Linked DNA regions of Homo sapiens. The protein of the gene in region 1 purifies or fractionates together with the protein of each later gene. This does not show direct contact. Each region holds a gene or a part of one and is shown on either strand. Other genes may lie near its edges.

What was found. The genes of interacting proteins can lie anywhere in the genome.
Region 2: the proteins of CSN1S1 (region 1) and MAN2B2 purify together in Homo sapiens (affinity purification with mass spectrometry; one large-scale study listed by BioGRID and IntAct). This does not show direct contact.
Region 3: the proteins of CSN1S1 (region 1) and B4GALNT4 purify together in Homo sapiens (affinity purification with mass spectrometry; one large-scale study listed by BioGRID and IntAct). This does not show direct contact.
Region 4: the proteins of CSN1S1 (region 1) and TIMP3 purify together in Homo sapiens (affinity purification with mass spectrometry; 2 studies listed by BioGRID and IntAct, with this or other methods). This does not show direct contact.

Annotation. Positions count from the first base shown.
Region 1 is NC_000004.12:69,934,068-69,939,597, forward strand, and holds part of CSN1S1 (alpha-S1-casein isoform 1 precursor), read left to right. Parts: intron 1-144; coding exon 145-177; intron 178-622; coding exon 623-643; intron 644-1,858; coding exon 1,859-1,882; intron 1,883-2,388; coding exon 2,389-2,412; intron 2,413-2,498; coding exon 2,499-2,540; intron 2,541-3,053; coding exon 3,054-3,077; intron 3,078-3,732; coding exon 3,733-3,756; intron 3,757-5,108; coding exon 5,109-5,141; intron 5,142-5,530. UniProt on the Homo sapiens protein: Important role in the capacity of milk to transport calcium phosphate. Casoxin D acts as opioid antagonist and has vasorelaxing activity mediated by bradykinin B1 receptors.
Region 2 is NC_000004.12:6,578,189-6,581,947, forward strand, and holds part of MAN2B2 (epididymis-specific alpha-mannosidase isoform 1 precursor), read left to right. Parts: intron 1-204; coding exon 205-310; intron 311-3,759.
Region 3 is NC_000011.10:375,999-379,757, forward strand, and holds part of B4GALNT4 (N-acetyl-beta-glucosaminyl-glycoprotein 4-beta-N-acetylgalactosaminyltransferase 1), read left to right. Parts: intron 1-75; coding exon 76-176; intron 177-252; coding exon 253-353; intron 354-422; coding exon 423-1,329; intron 1,330-3,419; coding exon 3,420-3,703; intron 3,704-3,759.
Region 4 is NC_000022.11:32,846,705-32,850,463, forward strand, and holds part of TIMP3 (metalloproteinase inhibitor 3 precursor), read left to right. Parts: intron 1-2,747; coding exon 2,748-2,830; intron 2,831-3,759.

The DNA.
Region 1 (5,530 bases):
TGGTCTCTGACAAATATTGCTATTAAAACACATACCTTTTGAAAATGGCAGTGTCAAAAATCATCGTATTATATGTGTATTATTATATTGTTATTGTCATTTTAGTTACTTTTTGTTTTACAATTCTTGCATTGTTTTTCACAGAAACTTCCTCTTAGATACCCAGAACGCCTTCAGGTAAATATTCTATTCTGCATTCCAAGAACTCACTCTAATTGTGAAGCACAAACTCCAAATGTGCGCTTCCCTTCTCTATGAAACAGCCTGCTTCACTTTTGCTGACGCATCATTTCTTTAGTTCAAGCACTGTCAGATGGTATTTGCTCTCACAAAACTTAGAGGACGGCACACTGACTTAGATAAACATTTATGTTAATAAAAATCTTATTTTTATTCCAGAGAAATAGTTAATTAAACAGAATGTGTTAACATGTTTATTTTAATGTATTCTTGCTTTTTTCAATGTTACACATATTCAAGCATGTGATTTACAGTTTGGTCTCATTTGATATGTTGAATCTTGAATTAGTTACCTCTACCACAACTTTCTATGAGCACAACTAATCCTACATTCTGTCCTGCAATTGGAATAATACCATTTAAAAATTATTATTTTTTACAGAATCCATCAGAGAGCAGTGAGGTAAGCTCTGTTTATGGGGAGTCAGGATTCTCTCTTCCTTTTGCTCTCTTTCAGTTAGCTGTCATGCATGTTGAATGTCTTCTTCTTTACAATTTTTATTTCCCTTCAAATGCATCCAACAACTCAAGTACCTGGATTGCTCTCTAAATTCTGTTTTGATGAAATTCCTATTTGACTTCTTAGCCATTTTGGTAAGCATAGACTTATTAAATTTACTGGCCTGGTGAAGAAGGAACTAATTAAGGTGTAGGTGTTCTTTAGATTGTAAAATTAGATCATAAAACTAAAACTAATTATTTGTTCTTCTAGCTAAGAAATCTGTTGGTTTACCGAATTAAATGGAGCATTTGTGTTCAAATGAGAATAATGTGGTTTTTTGGTGTTTTTATTATTTTTATAATTCACAATTTAATTTCAATAAGAAATTATCAAAGAAGGAAAGTTTCTCAGGCTTCTTCTGGTAAGTGTTATCCACTTATTCTTAAAAGAAGAAACATACTTTTATGGGAAAAATTATTTAATTTTTGTTTATAAAAATGTTTTTTTCACTGGGTGCTGTGGCTCACACCTGTAATCCCAACACTTTGGGAGGCTGAGGCAGGAGGATTGCTTGAGCCCAGGAATTCGAGATGAGCCTAAGCAACATAACCAAACCCCGTCTCTACAAAAAAAATTTTGAAAAAAAAAAAAATAGTCGGATGTGGCGGCATGCACTTGTGGTTCCAGCTACTTGGGAAGCTGAGGTGTGAGGGTCACTTGAGCATGGGCGGTTAAAGCTGCAATGAGTCGTGATAGCACAAGGGCAACAGAGCAAGAAATTGCCTTAAAACAAAGTGGTTTTTTGTTGTTGTTGTTGTTTAACCTAAGTTAATCAACCCTTCCCTTCATTCAGTCATCCAAACACCCAGAAAGAATATAAAAACAAGATATGTATATGTTAAAGAGCTGCTTTATATTTTAATTTGTACCTAAACGTTTGCCTCTCCAAAACACTCTGCTCTCCTTTCCGTGACGTATGTAGAGGTTTACAATTTCCTCACTCCTTATAATAGAATGCTCTTAACTATAAATAATACATATGTGTCACATTCTCTATAATTTTTGACTTAATTGTTGAATAGAAGAACATAACGTTTTAATTCAAGGACATTATCTAAATGATTTGATAGATAACTCAACTATGAATGAATTTTAACATAACTTTTTTTTTTGTAGCCTATACCATTAGAATCAAGAGAGGTAAGAATGACTCCACAGAATTTACCGTGCAATTAACAAAGAGAAGTAAGTGTTAAGATCAGGAGACTCAGAACAGTGCCTAAAACAAAGTGAAAGTCAAGGATAACAAATTTGAGTGGAACAAACTTAAAAATATTGTTAAATGCACATTTACATACTAGCCTTACACAAAGAAGGAGTAGGGAAACACCACTTAAAGGTTAGAAATGATACAATAAGGAATATTAGTTCATTTGTGAAAAATAAATTTATTTTTAAATTTGTATCAGCACTAATGAATTCTGCTGAGAATTCTGAAGACTACTGATTTGATTGACTTAATTGTGTAGTGAGAAAGACCACTTAAGGTTAGAAATGATATAATAAGGAATATTAGTTCATTCAGGAAAAATGGATTTATTTTTAAATTTGTATCAGCACGATGTGAAGTACAGTTTCTCATAGATTTCCACTCATGTATGTCTTGTTTCACTAATATTGTTTATGTTTTCTTTTTTATCCCTAAGGAATACATGAATGGTATGAACAGGGTAAGAAACATCAATGAAATTTAAATTATGTTAAAAGTTTGTTTTCATGAAAACATATTTTACAAGGTACACTTTATTGATTTTAGCAGAGAAACATTCTGAGAGAAAAACAGACTGATGAAATCAAGGTACCAAAGTTTTTCTTGAAAGAGTATGGCAAAAGTATATATTCTTGTAGTAGAAAAAAAGTTTTCCTTTAGGAAAAAAAAGCATTTTTCTATGGTTTTGTCCTTTCCTTGAACTTTTCACTCATACATTTGTAGTGACTAATGGAGTCTGCTGAGAATTCTGAAGAAAATGATTTCATTGACTTAATTGTGCAACTGTGATGAAACAAGGCATTAGTGTGAATGAATGAAATAACAAATAAACAAATAAATGCAATTATGTATTCACATTTATCACCAAAATTAAAGGAATGCTTTATCAAGGGTATTATATGAAGTAATACAATATCTGGCTCAAGAATATTTACATAGTCATACTCAATTATTTTCTTTAACCATAACATCTTTGATTTGGATTGTCTACTAGTTTTCTAGTAGAATTGGTATTGAGAGAGCAGGTGCTCAAACTTTATGAGATAAAATATATATCTTCTTAACAATCTGTCATACCTAACTGATTGACTGTCTTGGCAGGATACTAGGAATGAGTCTACTCAGGTGAGACCCTTTGTTTTAAAATTATTAAACCAATATGAGGAAAAGAAACAATACATATTTCCCCAAATAAATTATTATTTTAAATAAAAACTATGGCAGATAACTCTAATTCAAAGAAAGAAAAGAAATAGTGTATCATACATTGGCCAGAATAACCAAACCAACACAAATATTTTAAATTTAAATTCTATGGATAATGTCACTGATCTCTGTATTGCTGTAGTCGTGAAAACTGAGCAAAACATACTAGATGGAGCAAGTTCTTTTGCTTAGGTATTTACACACCATTAAATCAGTGCTCTCCTTTAGTCCAGTTGTATTTACTGCATGAGCTTCAGTGCAGTGTCCTGCTCAGAGTCCAGAAGCCAAGTTTTAAAAGAGGGAAAGCAAAAAGTCATGCTGGATAAAGGAAAATGTAAACTTGTTTTCACTGATTTGCTACAATATAGAAGAATCCGAAACGTTTTATTTAAACTTCAAAATGCAGATTCATTTGGCTCAGAGATAAAGTAGGCAGTTTTTTTAGTTTTTCTTATTACTTTTATATTGTCTCAGTTTTCTATTTTCTTTGACATCCATTTTATTTGGTAATCATTACTTTTGTATTTGACTATTTGTCATGAAAAATGAAATTGATTATTTTTTCTTTCTTAAGAACTGTGTTGTGGCAGAGCCTGAGGTAAGACCCATTCATTCTAGTGAACTCTACACTTACGTATCAAACATAGTATATGCAGCATGCTTCATTTTAAAAAGACTGTCTTCTGAAATTAAGCAAAATAAGAAACTGAATTTTAAAATGTTAACATTTTAATTTTAAATTAATCCTATTCTAATTTTAACTTATTGAACTTCTCAAACAGGAATATTATACTCAAGAATGTACAATGTTGTGCTAGATAAAGTTGAAATTGGAAGACGGAATTTAAGCCATTTAAATAATAATTAGTAAAAAAATGCTTATTCATTAAAATATAAAATAAAAACAAAAGGTGCATGGATGTTTAAAATGAGAGTCCCACAGAACACTGACTCTGACATCCCAGGGCATGAGATTACTTTTTTATTTTAGATACAAGTGCATGTATGTATGTAAGATTTTTACATGAGTATGTTAGACACAGGTAGTGAGCATACTACCCAACAGGTATAGGTTGGTGCAAAAGTTATTGTGCTTTTTACCATTAAAAATAATGGCAATACTATTAGGTTGGTGCAAAAGTAATTGCAGTTTTTACAGCGTAATGGCAAAAACCTCAATTACTTTTGCACCAACTTAATAGTTTGTCAACCCACGCCCCTCTCCCTCTCCTTGGGCAGAAAGAATCTATGGCAGCAATTACCTAGGATCAGTGAGCTATACTACCTACTCTACAATTATATTTTTTTAAATGCTGACTTATTACATATGGTTAATCAACCATCCCCAGAGATAAAGTCTGTTGAATATTAAAATTAATCTGTTAAAATATGTATGTATTTGGAAAGTAAAATTATATGTATATATAAATATAAACATAAATGACTTTGAAGAAAAAGTAAATATTTCAAAGTAAATATTTTAAAATCTAATGTAATTTTAATTTCATCTTAAGATTGTGCATTGTATTTAATGTTTCCATTTTATTCACATCAAAGAAGCCCCAAGGACAGATGAGAACAGATGTTTAACCCAGGGTTCTGGGTACCCAGCTAAATATGGTTCTTTCTTAGAGGTTTCATTTTTGTCACAAAAATCTATGCAAATTTTGCATTCTACTCAATGATAAACTTGTGTTTGTTTTCCTAAATTAAAAACAATTGTTTTTAAGTTTTTATGTTCCCAGATAAGTTATTAAACCTACCACCATAATTTTTCAAGTAAAATTCACACTCCAAGAAAATACAATGTAGTACGCCTGAATTTTTCCATACCACTTATTCAGTTATAATGTTACCATGGTAAGCATTTCACCATGATGACATGGAACTAGTTTCCTTCAAATTCTAAAAATCCCAGGGGATAATTAACACTAGATTTCTTTCTTTTAGAAGATGGAATCCAGCATCAGTTCATCGAGTGAGGTAAATAATTTTGATATTAATTCTGTGTCCCAACTAATTTAAAAAATTATGAAAACTTGTACCGTGAGGATTACATATCCCTTAAGGTCTCATTGTACAAGGCAGTGTATATGTGGCACTATTCTAGTTTTAGTATGTGAGTAGCTATCCAAAAGAAGTAAGAAAGCAATTGTTTGTCAGAGACAAATTGACAAAATTATTTCTGGGCAAACAATCTTATCTGGCCATCTGTGATGTCCAAATTATTTTTTTAACCAATTACTTTGTCCTTCGCAGATTTTGTTAAAACTCAATCTTATCATTAAAAATTCTAACAATTACCATGCTTATAAACCCATGAAGTAAACATTTCATAAACCATTTAGAATTTAACCAATTCTAGATTAATC
Region 2 (3,759 bases), about 63 Mb from region 1:
TCAAATACCACCTGAGGGCTGCATGATTTCTAGGTGGTGGGAACACAGTGTGGACCAGGACAGACAGTGCCCTGCTTTTATAGAGTAAGCAAGGGTGGGGAGTTTTATGCAGGGCGTGTGTGGCGCTGTAGGTGTGTTCCCCACAGACCCAGCCATGCTCAGGAGCCGTAACTGGCTTTTTTCTCTCTGCCTGCCCATGTCAAGGTCCGCCAGCTCCTGGAGGAAGGACGCCTGGAATTTGTCATCGGAGGCCAGGTCATGCATGACGAGGCTGTGACGCACCTTGATGACCAGATCCTGCAGCTCACAGGTTTGGCCACCCTACCCTGCACCCAGGGTCCCTCAGGACCTCCAGTGGGGCTGGGACATGGTATCAGAACCCCCAGGTTCTGAGCTCTGTCTGCCCCTCTTAGTGGGGTCGGGGACCTTAACCAGTGAAAGCAGTGATTTGCTAGTGCCATATTCATGCCTCACCAAGGAAGTTGAATGTAGGGGTTAAGAGCATGGATGCTAGAGTCAGATGGTCTCAATATATCCTGGCTCTGCCAATTCCCTCCTCTGTGACCCTGGAAAGGAATGTAACTTCAGTTTCCTCATAGATAAAATGAGTTTGATGGTAATACCTACCTCAAAGGGTTGTTGTGAGTATTAAATGGGATAATTCAAATAAAGCACTTTAGTAGGATGTGGGTTCCCTAGTAAATGCTCAGTAAGTGTTTGCTGCCTTCCATCACAATTACCACCTTCAGCACCATAATGACCATGACTACTACCATCACCACCACCACCACGATGACCATCACTACCACTACCATCACCACCACCACCACCATCACCATCACCACTACCACCATCACCACCATCACCACCACCATCACCATCACCACCACCACCACCATCACCATCACCAGCACCACCACCATCACCATCACCACTACCACCACCACCACCATCACCACCACCATCACCATCACCACCACCACCACCACCATCACCATCACCAGCACCACCACCATCACCATCACCACCACCACCACCACCATCACCACCACCACCCTTCACCACCATCACCACCACCACCATCACCACCACCATCACCATCACCACCACCATCACCACCACCACCACCATCACCACCACCACCACCACCACCATCACCATCACCACCACCATCACCATCACCACCACCACCACTACCCTTCACCATCACCACCACCACCATCACCATCACCACCACCATCACCACCACCCTTCACCATCACCACCACCCTTCACCACCACAATGACCATCACTACCACTACCATCACCACCACCATCATAACTACCATCACCACCACCCTTCACCACTGCTATGACCACCACTACCACTACCATTACTACCACTACCATCACCACCATCACCACTACCACCATCATCTTCACCACTACAATGACCATTACTACCACTACCATCACCACCACCCCCTAAACACTATCACCATGATCACCACCCATCACTGTCGCCACCACCATCACCACATCCATTACTACCATCCCCTCCACAATCATCATCACCACCACCATGACCATCTCCCTCACCATTGTGTCCACTGTCCTCAGCACCATCACCCACAGTGCCGTGGGGCACTCTACTCACCATTTACCAAATGCCTTTCACAGTGACACCCCAGCCAATCCTAATGGCGGGCTGATGGTGAGGCATGGTGATGCCCAGTTTCATTTTGCAGATGTAGAAACTGAGATCCAAAGAAATGCAGTAACTCTCTCCAGGGTAGATGGCCAGGACTTGAGTCCAGGCCTAGGGACTGAAGCTCCGAGTCCACAGTCACTCCACTACAGCATGGGCCCTGATTTCCCCATTTGTAAAACATCCAGGCAGAGAGCAATGTTGTCAAAGGATGTTTTTGGCACTCTCCCTTTTCTCATCTGTAATCTGGAGTGTTCCCCTGTCTCAGTTTCTTACTGCCTTACATCTGGACTTTGCTCAAACCCTAGACTTGCCCTTCCATGAGAAGGAGGCGTGATGGACACAGCCCTACAGACAGAGCTCCTCCTGTGGCCAGGAGCTCAGCCCCTGCTTGTCCCCCTGCATCCCCACAGGCCCAGAGGTAACAGGGGAGGACAGCAAGGCTCAGAGGGAGCACCTTGCCCTCAGCCGCCTGCTGTGGCTCCCTGACTCCAGAGCCCCTGCTCTTTCACTCCCCCATGTGAAGTGTGGGCAAGGGATCTATCCCAACAGACTTCCCCCACACCCCTTCACAAGCCCACTGCCAGGGAATGTGTGACACTGTAGGCGTGTCCCCCACCTGCCTCCTGCCCCGTGCCAGCGAGGAGGCTCTGGGGCTGTTTCTCACCTGTGCCATTTCACGCAGTGCTCCCCCTCATTCTCCACCCTCCTCCTCAAGATGCAGCTGAGAAGCCCCTCCCGCAGGAAATCTCTGAGTCTCTGCAGTTCTGTGTCACCTCCCCACTTAACCGCTGAACCTCAAGATGCCCCTGGCAGGGACCCCCATCTGACTCATCTCAGCACCCAGCATAGGGTCTGGCCCAGACCACTGCTTACTGGGCAAGGCTGGGCAAGGGGTGGGCGCTGAACTGCCCTGCCCTGAGGGTACCCACCACTGGGGTACCTCGCCTCTGGCCTCAGCCCACCGTGCCTAAGTGCTGATACCCCAGCGCTGACCCTGCAGGTCTGACCTGGCAACTGGAAGCCTCAGGGAAGCTGAGGCTGTGTCGCTCTGGGGCAGGAAGAGCCTCCAGAGACACAAGAGACAGCGGCTGTTGTGAGGCTCCATTTCCAAACCTGTCCAAGCTCATGGGGCCCTCAGGGTACAGACATGTGGGTTTCTTTCATGATAACCACCTTGTTCTAGGTACAAGATGTACACGTATTTTTTTTTCAGTCCTCAGGGCAATCTGGTAGATGGGTAATCTTACAAATGCTTATTTGTAGAGAAGTTTGAGGCTCAAATGCTATCCAAATGTGCCCACCACCAGCTAAGTGATGGGACCCAGATCCAACCCTAGCCCGGCCGAGTCAGGAAGGTTACTTGTGGCTGAGCCCCTCTCACTGGCGGCTGAGCCAAGCCCTTTCCCATCTGCTATCTCTTAGTTGCCTCAGAACAGCCTGGTAGCAAGTGGTACTGTTCACAGCCCCATTTGACAGATGAGGAAACTGAGGTACTGAGAGATGCGGGATTTATATATATGCAGTAGGTAACAGAACTGGCGCTCAAGCCCATGTGTGCCTGGCCTGGGCTCTTTCCTTAACTTGTAGTCCCTAGGGCGGGGGCAGAGTGTGTGTATCAGACCACCCATCTCAGATGTCCCAGGCATTCTGGCTGTGAATTATGTCCACATTGGGCTGGTTTTCTCAGATATGTTGGGGTAAGAGGGGCTGGATCACCCCTCACTGCTTCCGGGCCCTTTATCCTCCATCTCACCTTGGTGGAGCCCCTGCCTCGAGGCAGGCCCTGGACAGCAAAGGAAGACAGGAGCAGGCTGGTGCAGCCTCTAGACCTCTGACCTTCTTCTTCGGGTATCTAGGGTGCCAAAGCATCTCCTCAACCAAGACCCACTCCTGGCTGCCCGCCAGGGCCTGGGGCACTGGGCCTGCCCGTAAGCTCACCTTTCCAGCCTTTACCTCCCCAACTCCTGCTCCCGGCAGTCACGCCAACACCACCTTAATTTTAGATGTGACATTTCTAGTGAGGGGAAAAGCATTTGTTCCCAGCACTGCAGTGTCAGGGAAAGGCTGG
Region 3 (3,759 bases), on another chromosome or scaffold:
GGAGCCTTCTCCAGCCCCTTGGGAGGCCGCCCCGGGAGGTCCGCGCCCTGAGCCCTGCGCCCCCCCACCCCCCAGGTGTACCTGTCCTTCGTTTATCCCAACGACTACACTCGCCTCACCCACATGGAGACGGACAACAAGTGCTTCTACCGCGAGTCTCCGCTGTATCTGGAGAGGTGGGCGCGCGGCCGGGCTAATGCGGGGCGGGGTGGGCGGGGCGGGACTCGGCTCTGATGCCCCGCCGCGCCCCAGGTTTGGGTTCTATAAATACATGAAGATGGACAAGGAGGAGGGGGATGAGGATGAAGAAGACGAGGTGCAGCGCCGAGCCTTCCTCTTCCTCAACCCGGACGGTGAGTGTCCGCAGCGCCCCTGGCCCGCACCCACCTGCGCAGGGAGCTTCTAACCCGCGTTTCCCGCAGACTTCCTGGACGACGAGGACGAGGGGGAGCTGCTCGACAGCCTGGAGCCCACCGAGGCGGCCCCGCCCAGGAGCGGCCCCCAGTCCCCCGCCCCAGCAGCCCCCGCCCAGCCCGGAGCCACCCTCGCCCCGCCGACCCCTCCCCGCCCCCGGGACGGGGGGACCCCCAGGCACTCCCGGGCCCTGAGCTGGGCCGCCAGGGCCGCCCGCCCTTTGCCGCTCTTCTTGGGCCGAGCTCCGCCCCCGCGCCCTGCAGTGGAGCAGCCGCCCCCAAAGGTGTACGTGACCAGGGTGCGGCCGGGACAGCGGGCATCCCCCCGGGCCCCAGCGCCGCGTGCGCCCTGGCCGCCCTTCCCTGGCGTCTTCCTGCACCCCAGGCCTCTGCCCAGAGTGCAGCTGCGGGCGCCCCCACGCCCACCCCGGCCCCACGGCCGCAGGACCGGCGGCCCCCAGGCCACACAGCCGAGGCCCCCAGCCCGGGCGCAGGCCACCCAAGGGGGCCGGGAGGGCCAGGCGCGCACGCTGGGACCTGCGGCGCCCACAGTGGACTCAAACTTGTCCTCCGAAGCGCGGCCCGTGACCTCCTTCCTGAGCTTGTCCCAGGTGTCCGGGCCGCAGCTGCCCGGGGAGGGCGAAGAGGAGGAGGAAGGGGAGGACGATGGGGCCCCGGGCGACGAGGCCGCGTCGGAGGACAGCGAGGAGGCCGCGGGCCCGGCGCTCGGACGCTGGCGTGAGGACGCCATCGACTGGCAGCGCACGTTCAGCGTGGGCGCCGTGGACTTCGAGCTGCTGCGCTCGGACTGGAACGACCTGCGATGCAACGTTTCGGGGAACCTGCAGCTGCCGGAGGCGGAGGCCGTGGACGTGACCGCTCAGTACATGGAGCGGCTGAACGCGCGCCACGGCGGGTATGGGGGCGGCCGAACGCGCGCCAGGGCGGTTTTGGAGGCGGGGACAGCCGGGGAGAGGAGGTCCTGGCCTTGGCGGACTCCTCAGACCTTCCCCAGGGCCCAGTGGTGTACCGGCCTGGGGGCTGAGGCACCGCGCCCCACCCCAGGGAAGCCCCAGCTTCTCTCCTTCCTTCCTGGCGTCCTGACTGCCCGGGCACTTGTCCAGCCTCAGGGACCTCCCTGGAGCCCCACCCAGGGCTGGCGCCCCATCCTTGCACCTGTGTACCCCACTTCTGTCATCCTGGACCTGGGCCCAGGGATGAGTCCAAGCTGCAGAGATCAGCGTCAGTCGCATCCAGTTGCTGCGCAGACAGCCCCATTCCGGGGGGGCCAGGCAGAGACCCTTAGGGCAAAGCTCAAGACCCCTGGGCCCCTCCTCCTCTCCCCTCGCAGTGCCCCTGGGCGTTCCCAGACTGTCAGGACCCGACTGCAGAGGAAGGTGCAGGGCTTCTGCCCCATTGGCCCCTCTGGTCTCCCTGAGGCCCCAGGAATCTAGTGCTGTCTGCCCTCCCTGCAGGCTGGTGGGCAGGAGTGGGGAGTCTAATTTGGCCTTGGGGAGGCCTGTGGAGTTCTAAGAAGAGGCAGTGTCTGCTGTGCCCAGCCTTGAAGGCGAGTTAGGAGTTGCACAGTGATGACAGGCAGAGGCAGGGGCAGAGGATGGAGGCAGAACCGGGACTGTTTCTCCTGTGCGTGATGGAAGGTTGCGAGCAGAGCAAAGCCAGGGGCAGAGGATGGAGACAGGGCCAGGACTGTTTCTCATGTGTGTGATGGAAGGTTGCGAGCAGAGCAAAGGCAGGGGCAGAGGATGGAGGCACAGCTGCATGTGACTGTTTCTTGTGTGCATGATGGAAGGTTGCGAGCAGAGCAGGAATTCCACCGGTTTGGGTGCAGACAGGTATGCCTCTGCCTGGAGGGGAAGGGAAGGTGGTGGTGGTGACTGACAGCCTGGAGCCCTGGGCGGTGGGTGCTGGATTCTAGGTGGCTCAGAGGGCACGCCTGCCCCGGCTCTAAGCTTCCTGAGAGCAGCTCGTCATTTCTTGGGGGCCTCATGGGAAGATCATGGTTGTGGCCCCACCAATGCCCACCTGGGTATGGCTCAAGGAGCAACAGTGTAGAGAGACCAAGAGCATTTGGGGCAGGAGGTCCCTGACACTCAGGGCTTTGGGGTGGGGAAGGACAGGAGTTGGAGGGAGGCCTTGGACCCTCAGCTGTCACACAGGTGGGCGTCCCCCAGTGAAAGGCACAGACTGCCAAGGGAGGACGTGAGGCCGACTGAAGAGAAACCATCGTCTAGGGCAGGGTCCTGTTTTCTCCAGATGAGGAGAGCAGAGTGGAGGGAAACTGAGGTTCTTGGCCGAGTGGAATGAGGAGGAAGGGGCCAGGAACGGGCTCCCAGCATGGAAGCAGCCTCCTCCACTCAGGGATCAGGACAGGAGCGGAACTGCTGCCTGGGGGAAAGGGGTGCTGTGAAGGCACGATTGGGGGCTTCTCAGAAGAGGTGACCCAGGGCCTGGAAGAGGAGTGGCTGGGAGGACTGGGGCAAACATCCCAGGCAGGGGACTCCTCAGGACAAAGGAGAGGAGACAGTGGCTGTGCCTGAGGAGGAGTCTGCTACCCCAGTATGAGGGGAAGGTTGAAAGCCACAAAATCAAAACTGCTTAAGGTCCTAGAATGCCACAAAAGCCCCTTGGAACCTTGTCCTATGGGCGGTGGCTAACTCCTGAAGGTTTCTGAGCAAGGGGGTAACAGGACAGGCGGGCATGTCATAAACGTCACCTGGGACGTGAGTGGTGGCCAGGAGGCCCGCGAGGAGGTGAGGATGGGCCTGGGCTCGCTGGTGTGCCCCCAGTCCTGCCCCGACCCTGGAGGGGGTGGCTGGAAGGTGGACCTGCCTGCTGGGCCAACCTGGAGGGGCAGGTGCTGTGCCGCGGAGCCCGCAGCCTCCGCCAACTCCAAGTCGGCTGAGTTTCTGTGGCCAGGGCGGACCAGGGTTGCGGGCGGGGTGCAGGCTGGAAGCCCCAGTACCGGCTGACCGCTGAGCCTTGCAGGCGCTTCGCGCTTCTGCGCATCGTGAACGTGGAGAAGCGCCGGGACTCGGCGCGAGGGAGTCGCTTCCTGCTGGAGCTGGAGCTGCAGGAGCGCGGGGGCGGCCGCCTGCGACTGTCCGAGTACGTCTTCCTGCGGCTGCCGGGAGCCCGCGTAGGGGATGCAGACGGAGAAAGTCCCGAACCCGCTCCCGCCGCCTCCGTGCGCCCCGACGGCCGCCCCGAGCTCTGCCGGCCACTGCGCCTGGCCTGGCGCCAGGACGTGATGGTTCACTTCATCGTGCCAGGTTCGCAGGGCGGGCTCGGGGTGTCCGGGAGACCTCGTGGAAGGAACATGGACCCT
Region 4 (3,759 bases), on another chromosome or scaffold:
CTATGTTGCTGCTCCAATAGTAATAAGCAAATCACTTGTTAGCCACATGAGAGGCACTGGGCTAAGAAAGCCAGAGAGATTCAGGAGGAAAGAGCCCCAGAGAGATCATACAGTAATGGTGGAACCCAAACTTCAATGCAGCTTCCTGACTACAAAAACGTATTCTTTTCACTGAACTATCCTCAGATGAAAAGGTTCCAAGCTCAGGCTATTTGGGGTAAGGAAGGAGTTGGCTGGTTGTATGTGCAGAAGCTTCCAGCAGTACTCAGCTTTATGGGGCAGGTCTGCTTGTGACATCTTCTGTCTAAATCAAGTCAAGCCATTTTTGAACCAGGATGTTGCTATTTAAAGGAATCCCTTTTGCCTTGCCCCTCCCACACCCCCCGGCCAAGACTCGCTCCCTTGTTTACCTTCTGTGTTAATGAGGCAGAGAAGATGGGTCCAAATCATTTCAGGAAGAATCAGTGGTAAAGGCTGGCAGACATGCCTCTGCACGGAGGTGAAGCTGTTATAACCTGCCTGTGAGAGTTAATATGGAGGAAACAGTCCCCGGGGCCTCCGGGAGGCTGGCTTGTCGCCGAGAATACTACCGCAATGTTAGAAACAGAGGTGGATGCAGGATCTTGACAGACATTGGCCTGGGATCTTGCCAACCTCTCGTTTTTACAGCAGACTTGGAAACAACCACTCGCCTCCTCCTAATTTGAGCTGCCTCCGCTAAATTGCTCACTTTGCCAATGACTGTGTGTTTTGCCATCGCCGGCAGGGAAGGTCTGAAGGGGCCATTGATTCATCTGAACCCTGACTTCATGTCTGACTGCAAGGGTAGGATCCAAGCTCATTTGGAAAGAAACAAGACAGAATCCAGTATGGATGAGGAATCAGTTCTTAGTAAAGATTTTTTAAAAACAGAGATTAGAGTCAAATAACTGGGATACATAGTGGAGCATCCACAATGAGGAAGGATAATGGAGCTACCAAAATGTGTGTGTGTGTGTTTGTGTTTGTGTGTGTGAAGGGTATTTTACTTAACAAGCATTTATTGAGTATCTACTCCTTTTTGGGCTAAGTGCAACTTGAGATAAGAAAGATTGATAGGATCTCAGGGCTGAAGGAGTTCAATTTGTAATTCAAAGTATGACTGCATAAGCAAGCCCCATTCCAATTCCTGTTGAGGTCTTAGCATGGAAGTATCCAGCACCCTCATCACACCCCCTGATAGAGGCACTCTCTGCCCTAATGGCAGCCCCCCTGCCTTTTGTTGCTGGTTCTTATTATTAGACGATTTTTTTCTTTGGTTGAGCCAATGAATGTTACTCTCTGCAATTTCCAGTTTTGGTATTCAAGACCTGTCCATTTGCTCCTCCATGTGCCAATTTTACAAATACCTGAAGACAGCTCTTGGGTGCTTCTTTTTCACACAACGTAGAAAGAGAAGCACAACCTTGTAGAATCTAAAAGTCAAGTCCTCTCCTCTTTCTGTTCCCAGTGCATGTGGTAAATGCCTCTCTTTCAGCCCTCAACCCACTGGGTGTAATTACTTTTGTATTCATAGTTAACTAGTATCTACTGGGTAAATCCTTTCTGCCAGACATTGTAGTGGGAAATTTCATAAGATCTTTCGTTCAATCCTGATTCCAATTCCCTGATGTAAAGAGAGTTATACCCTCTTTATAGATGAGAAAATTGAGGCTCAGAAAGAGGAAGTGGTTTCACTTCTTGGTCTGTTACCTTATCTAGATCATGTGGATGCTAATACTGCCCTTGTAAGACAGTTAAGAGCAGTAAATAAGTGAAATGTACATGGCACATAGTAGGTGTGCAATAAATGGGAGCTGTTTTCATTGGAACAGCCCTTCCATGGTTAGCCCATTTCATTTTTGGTGATGATAATGATGATGATATTAATAATATTTGTCTAGTGCAAACTATGTCCAAGACAGTATCAAGAGTTTCACATTTGTCATCTTGACTAATCCCTTCAGTTCAAGAGATTAGTATCATTATGATTCCTGTTTTATAGAAGAGGAGGCCAGAAACAAAGTTACTTACTTGCATACAGTCGCAATAGCCATAAACAGCAGAGCTGAGATTGGAACAGTTCTGTCTGGCTCCTGAGCCCCGACTCCCAATTGCTCCTTCTTCTAACCACATCCCCATAGAGCTCAGACTCTATTGCATCCCTTGCTATCTAAGCACTGGATACCAAGGGCTCAATCAGAATGCTAACTGGGGGCACTGTGGGAAGCTAGGGTGCACCACAACCCTGTAGACATGTCAAGATGTGGTGAATTAATGCATGCAAAGGAAGAGCCCCAAATGAGGTGGTTAGAAAGGGGTCCTAGTGGAAAGAGAACAGATCTGGGAGACCATGGCATTGTCAGATGGACAAGGGAGGGGGGACAATGGCTCTAACAGGAGAAGTAGGTTTTGGATTATGGTAAAGTCACAAAGTCAAGAAAATCCTCAGGGTCGGCGGGGGTTGACTATAGCCTTGGAAGTTCTGGAGCTGGCAATTGTGAATATTTGGGGTAATTAACTTGAATGGTGGCTGTTTCTTTTTCCTCCAACCTCCCTCTCACCCCAGGGAATTCCCACTCTTGTAAACACAATCATCTATTCCAGTTGGCTCCAAGGTAAGAGTGCAATTCCAGGCTCCACAGAGGCTAGCGTGCCCGCCCTGAGATGCTGTTCCTGATGTGGTTCAGGCCTTCCTAACCTCTTATTGTCTCCTTCTGTCTCTGCAGTGATCCGGGCCAAGGTGGTGGGGAAGAAGCTGGTAAAGGAGGGGCCCTTCGGCACGCTGGTCTACACCATCAAGCAGATGAAGGTAGGTAATGTCATCACCCTGGCTCCGGGAAGGTTTTTGGGTTTTTGCCAGAAGAGTCCTGGCTAAGGGAGGCAAAGTGGGTTGGAACTGGGGTGTGTGTCTAAGCACCAGCCAGACCCAGCCCTTCTGCCTGCTGGAGAGGGAGCTGCTAAGGCTGCATAAAGGGATGGGTAGGGAGGGGGCATGGGGCTGCCTTGTCCAAGAGCCCATGCAGGTGGAGTCACTCCAAGGCACTTGTTAGGAAGCTGAGCTCTGGAGCCAGATGGCAGATAGCCTTGTTAGCTCGTAACCATGAGACCTTGGTCAAGTCACTGCCCCTCTCTGGGCTTTAATCTTCCCAATTGTGAAATGAGGGGGTTGGACTAGATCATCTCTATGAACTCTTCTGAGCTCTGACTATCTGGGACTCAACAGTGCTTACAGGTTTCATGCAGCCACTGAGGTTACAGCTTAGGTTTACAGCCCTCAAATCTTTACATGGAAACTGTGCTGATCACAGGAACCTCATCCCAAGGCAGGAACTTCACCTTCTTTCCCTATTTTCCCAGCTGATTGTCTTCTTGCATCCTAGATAGTTAGCAATGTTTGCTAAGCATATTCTTATCATTAAACATATTACTGAGGATATGAACATCATGAAGTACAGGAAGGAGGTATGCCCTTAAGAAAAAGAACACCAGATTTGAAATCTAGAGAACCTGCCTCCTAGTCTCACCTCTACTCCTAAATAGCCTGCTTACCTTGGGCTTGTCCCTTTTCCTGGGCCGCAGTTTTGCCACCTGTTAACAGTGTGGGGTTGGGCTTGGTGCTCCTAACATCCTCTCTAGCTCAGGCATTCTAAGCACCCTGGGATGCGGGCCATGTTACTTGTAAGGAGGAGCGGGTGGTATACAATGGAAGGGTGTACTGGTGATTGCCTTAGCACAGAA